Linked DNA regions of Homo sapiens: region 2 is linked to region 1. Evidence: fine-mapped expression QTL. A gene starts in region 1. The other region holds a variant in brackets. All regions are shown on one strand. Distances are from middle to middle.

Region 1 (2,899 bases):
TACGGGGTAGGGGTGCCTGCAGCCCCCTTGGGCCAGGGCCACCAGCCATGCTCTTGCACCCCCACACACATGTGCCAGGTTGGGGTTCCAGGATATGGTCAGTGGGTGCCTCAGTGGAGAGGGCCCAGGCAGCCCCGGTGCCTGATGACATCATGGGCCTTGCTGGATGTCCTGACAAGCAAAGGCAGGAGCTCCTGGTACCAGGGAGAACTCGCCCCCTCTGCCCTTCTGGGGATACTGGTCCTCTTTAGACCAAGACAAAATATTAGCATATCAGAGAAATATACTTAGGGTTTTCTAAGTGCATTTCCCCAACCAGCCGGTCAGCATCACCTGTGAACTGGCCATGTAAGTCTCTGCCTCCACACCAGACCCACCGAATAACCCTCCTGGGTGGTTCTGATGGAAGCCTTTCAGGTGGTTCTGATGGAAGATTGACGACCAGCGCTCTGGAAGTAACTTTAGCCTGATTTGAATTCCTTGCTGCTGTGAACGCTTAACTTTTAGGAACAGGTATATTTATCACAAAGAAATCCGAAGCAATTAGGGGAGCTACCTACACTTTCAAAAGGACTTGAATGTATTTAAATTAAAAAAAGCGGATGGGGCCCGGGTGCAGTGGCTCATGCCTGTAATCCCAGCATTTTGGGAGGCGGGAGGGTCACTTGAGTCCAGGAGTTCAAGACCAGCCTGGGCAACATGGCAAGACCCATTTCTACAAAAATAAAATAACACCAAAAATTAGCCGGGTATGATGGGGCGCGCCTGTAGTCCCAGCTGGGGACTCCCGAGACTGAGGTGGGGGTATCTCCTGAGCTTAGGATGTTGAGGCTGCAGTGAGCCGACATCATGCCACTACACTGCAGCCTGGGCGACAGAGTGAGACTCCTGTCTCAAAACAAAAAAGAGGGGCGGGGAAGCAGTAACAAGCACAGGTGTCCTCAGCCCATGGATGGCAGCGCCCGCCTCCACGCGCCAGTGCCCTCCTGCTCCCCTACCTCCCCCTTGGCCACCCCTGGGCATCCCCAGCCCTGCAGCGCCGAGGGCGGAGGGGAGGCCACCCGCCCCCAGCAGAGGGCTCCGAGAGAGCTGCAGCGGCGGTGGGGGCCCCGCAGAGATTGGGGCCCATGGTTTGAAGGCTGTTCACAGGCACCCCGAGACAGCGTCCCCCCTCTGGGCGCACTGGATTTGACGTTGCAGGACGCGCGGCTGGAAGCCCCCCAGGCCCCGCTGCTCACAGACCGGGACTCCGCCTCCGGTTCCCGAGGGCGTGGCGAGGCGCTGCGGGACGCCCAACAGGTGCGTGTTGTGTCCCCAGGCCCCGCGCTCCGGGTGGAGTCAAGAACCTGGAAGCCGGCAGCCCGGGAAAAGGGGGCGGGACGGTGCCCCGGGGCAGGGCTGGGTGGCGGCCGCTGTCCTCCCGGGAGGGGCGGGCCGCCTCGACGCCGCCCTCCCTGGCGGCCAATGGAGACCGAGGCCCCGCGCCTGGATTGGAGCGGACGCGGGGGGTCAGCCAGCCTTGGGGGCCGGGGCCTGGCCGGGGGCGGGGGGGCAGGCGAGGCGAGGCGGGCGCCGTCCGCGCGGTTATAAGGCGGGGAGTTCCCTGCGCCGCGAGCCGGGAGGCGCACGCTCGCTCGTACGGCGGCCGCGGCGGCAGGGCGGGGCCGGAGCAGCGGGCGGCGGCGGAGGCGGCGCCCGGGAGCGCTCTTCGCTTCCCTCGGGGTCTTGCTCGGACCTCGGCCACCGCCTGGGATCCCCAGGACTCGTGCGTGCAGCATGGGCGGCGTCGGGGAGCCGGGACCGCGGGAGGGACCCGCGCAGCCGGGGGCGCCGCTGCCCACCTTCTGCTGGGAGCAGATCCGCGCGCACGACCAGCCCGGCGACAAGTGGCTGGTCATCGAGCGCCGCGTCTACGACATCAGCCGCTGGGCACAGCGGCACCCAGGGGGCAGCCGCCTCATCGGCCACCACGGCGCTGAGGACGCCACGGTAAGGAAGCCATAAGGAAGCCACCCACCGGCGGGTGGAGCCTGGAGCTCGGTCGTGGGCGTGATGTCCCGCTCCACCTGTGGGGCCTTAGCATCCTCCCTCCCCTCGCTGACCTTTGACCTCCACGCCGGGACCCAGAGTTGGGGTGGACTAGCCAGGGCCAGATGTGGGGTAGGGAGGGCAGTTCCCTGCGTGGAGGACCCGCAGCTGTCCACGGAGCAGGTCTGCGGGGGAGGAGGGGGCCTCAGAGGTGGGTGTGTCATGCTGCAGAGCCTGCCCTGGGTGAGGGGCTGCCCTGTTGCTCCCAGGTCCCTGTTTCAGTTCTGGGTCCCCATGCTGGGTGCTTGCTGAGTGCTAGGGGTAGGGCAGGGCAGGGTCCCCAGGGGCCGGTAAGGACATGCCATTAGAGGCTGGGGGCTGGGCCGGCCTGAGGTCTGTGGCTTTCCCAAGAGCTTCTGTAAAGGGCTCAGGGACAGTGACTCACCTCTCCGGGCTAGCAGCTGCACGTGGGAGGGCTTTGCCAGCCAGGCTGGGTGGGCCTCTCCTGGAAGCACAGTCACCCCAGGAACAGGCTGGCCCCTGGGGACCCCAACTTCCCAATCCCAGCCCCTGTCTAGACAGGCAGGGATGTAGCCTGGCCCCAGGGTACTGTCTGGCTGGAGTCCAGTGGTGGAGCAGCCCGACCAGCCCCTTTTCCTTAGTTACCCACCTGCATAATAGGGGTTGGGGCCACGATGCCCTGTCCTTGACCCTCCAAATTTCTAGGTTGGCCACACTGGGTATCAGGAAGGTCTTCAAGACCCGAGGACATGAATCCTGAATGCTGGCTTTTTGGGCAGCAGCGGAGGTTCTGTCCAGTCCCAGGACTGTCGGCGTCCCTCTTGACAGGGCCACCTGCTCTCTGCCGATT
Region 2 (2,899 bases), 27 kb before region 1:
CTTGCAAGCATGGACTCTTCTGAGGAGCACGCTGGGTGCCCCGCCCGAGGGACATGTCCCGTGTTCCTGGCCATGAGTGCAGGGACTGTCCGCTACGCCCCATCAGGCCTGTGCCCTGTACTTGAGGGGAACTTGAGAGAAGAGCCCTGGGGCACAGACAGGTGAGCTCAGGACCTGGGGCATGGAGGGGAGGGGGAGTCTTGGCAAGCTTCAGGGCAGCCAGTGTGAGAAGCTGGGCTCAGAGAGTCCTAGGCAATGGCTCTGATTGTCTTGTCCAATTTGGTGGCTGTACAGAGGTGGAGACTGAAGCTCAGAGAGGGCAAGACACTCATCCTGGGTCACACAGTGAGCTGAGGACACACCTGTAAGTCCAGAATCAGGGCCTGGGTTGTCCAGGCTGACTGTCTCCTGCTCCTCAGCTGCCTTCAGCCAAGGGTCTGTGGTCAAGGCTGCCAGGCTTGGGATGGAGCAGGCAGAGGGAGATAGAGGGAGGGAGGCTGAGGAGGGCAGTGGCTTGTAGGCAGAGGACACAACTTTTATTTATCCCTTCCCTGCCACTGGCCAGACACCTAGCATGTGCTCAGGAACCTCTTGCTGCCTGGCTGCACACAGCTGCAGCTGCCAGTGAGCCTCTAGTTTCTGGGTGGTCTTTTTGGAAAACGGGTGTAAGAGGACTCAGCCCCACTGCCCCTGGCTGGTGTGATATCAGGCAGGTTCCTTAACTTCTCCGAGCCCATCCTTTTCAACTGAGGAGCAAGTTCAGCTGAGCAGGAGGGTCCTCCCTACTGGGGGAGGCAGTGAGCCCTAGGAGTCCATGGTAGCAGGAAGCATGGATGACAGGCTATTTTTGGTTAGAAATTGAGTGTGGATGCTTCCAGAGTGGTGACCACAGACTTGTCCTTCAAGACCTCGCTCAAGGGCCTCCCCGGTCCACCAGACCTCCCAGGCTGAGGACTCTTCCTCCAGGGACATAGCCCTGAGCTGACGCCTCCTCCACCCTTTATCTCCCACTGGTCTGGGTTGCCATGACTTATCTCCTGCCGGGGCTTGTGAAGACTTGGAGGGCAAGGGCCCTGTGCTGGGTTCCTTTTGTGTCATTTTCTCCTCCTTCTCTAAATAGTGAACAAAATAAGGGCCAGGAAGACAACAGTTGCTCAAGACCAACTGATGAGGGATTCAAGCCAGCAAACACATGTGGACATCTGCTTTGGGTGGGCCAGACCCTGAGCTGGGCTGGGGGTGGGGTAGGGGAACATAGCTCCAAGAAAGAGAGAATCCCTGCCCTCTGGAAGCCGTGGCCATGGAAACAACTGCCCTGCTGAGTGATGGCTATGGGA[C/T]GCCTGGGCTGAATGATTCTAGAAAGTTGGAAGGGATGCTATGGAGAACTGCCTAGGTTGTTCACTGCACAAAGTGCTGGCCAAGGGAGCAAGCAAGGCATAGAATCCAGCCTCGCCTCCACTCTCCAGATTCCATACCTTGCTGTGCGCTGTGCCCAGCGGGGAAAGAGCATTGTCTATTTGTGCCCTGGACGTGGAGGTCTTAGAGAATACGTCCCCCATCCTCCATCCTCCACCAACGTGGAGCCCCAGGAGGGCAGAACCTATGTCTGTACAGTTTCCTGCTGGGTCCCCAGCCCCTTGCATGCCCCATAGTCTATGCTCAGATGGAGTGGCTGAATGTATGAATGAGTAGAATGAATGAATAAAATGTATCCTCAAACGAAGATCTGACTAACTTGAGCCTGCGGCCTGAGTCAGTGGGCCTGGAGGGGTAGCACTGGGACCTCTGGTAGCACCTAGAAGGGGAAGTACCTCCCACCACGCTCCCAGTCCTCCCCTAGACAGGGAAGGTGGGAGCCATGGTACCTGGCGGGAGAGAAGACGGGTTCTGCTCTTACTGGTCCAGTCCCAGGCTGAAGTTGAGACGAATGATCAGGACTCAGAATGGGTGGGACAGAGGAACTGAGGGACAGGTAGACCAGTCGTCTGGGATTCAGGGAAGGTTTCACGGAGGATGTGGGACCAGACAGGTGTGTGTATGTGTGTGTGTCGGTGGGGGTGGGGTGGGGAATACTATCCAGAGGGCAGATGGTGAGTAAAGGCAGGGATGGGCAGAGCGTGTTAAGTGGCAGGAGGCTGAGTGAGGAGAGTTGGACCAGAAGTGGAAACTCCTTCGGGATAAAACTCAGAGAGTAGGACTCAGAAAACTTGTTTCGGGTTTGTCCCCTCCCCTTCCCAGCAGGCAGGATGTTGCACAGGGACAGGCACTAAGCAGACAGCCTAGGGAAGGAGGGCCGGGTGAGGAGGGGGGAGGGTGTCTGCTGGCCTTAAGTGACAATCTGTGTGAGAATCGAAGAGCTGAGAGCTCGGGAGCCATTGTAGGTTCTTGAGCAGGGGTGGCCCAAAGTGGGTGGTGCGGAGGGCGACTGGAGAGGAGGAGTCAGCTGGGGAGTCTGAGCGCGGCGCGGCCCGCGGGATGTTGGGGGCCGGGTTCCCTCCGAGCGCCGTGGTCTCCCTGTCCCGGCGCGGCGGGCCGGGTGGGGCCAGGCCTTGGGAGCGCGCGCCGGATCCCAGCGCCGGGCCGGCGGAGGGGCGGGGCCGGGCACGTGTCCTCGGGCCGCTCCCCCCTCCGCCACGTGACCCGCCCAGGGCAGGGTCGGGGCTGGGCTGGGGGCCGCGAGCCCAGGCGTCTGAGACCTACTGACCGGCCGCGGGCAGGGCTGACAGGCGGTGGGGCGGCTCGGCCCCTGGCGGAGTCGGCGGCGGGCGGGGACGCGGCGCTGGGAGGACGCGGCGGCGCTGGGAACGGACGCCTGGGCGCCCCGAGGCGCCGGGATGTGGAGCGGGTAGGTCCGCGCGCGCTCGCGGTCCCGCGCTGGGTCTGGGCCGCGGTCGCCTCC

The links. PIP is the estimated chance that this variant, and not a neighbour inherited with it, causes the effect.
Region 2: its variant is fine-mapped to the expression of FADS3 in whole blood (INTERVAL, PIP 0.94).

Annotation. Positions count from the first base shown.
Region 1 is chr11:61,890,259-61,893,157 of GRCh38, reverse strand. It overlaps FADS3 (fatty acid desaturase 3), which reads left to right and starts at 1,613. Exons shown (of 12, transcript NM_021727.5): 1 at 1,613-1,989. The coding sequence starts at 1,777. RefSeq lists silencers at 905-1,714, 1,815-1,944 and enhancers at 2,145-2,314, 1,904-2,592, 2,593-2,899.
Region 2 is chr11:61,917,303-61,920,201 of GRCh38, reverse strand. RAB3IL1 (RAB3A interacting protein like 1) reads left to right here and starts at 2,636. Exons shown (of 10, transcript NM_013401.4): 1 at 2,636-2,845. The coding sequence starts at 2,835. The variant C/T (reference allele first, on the strand shown) is at 1,338.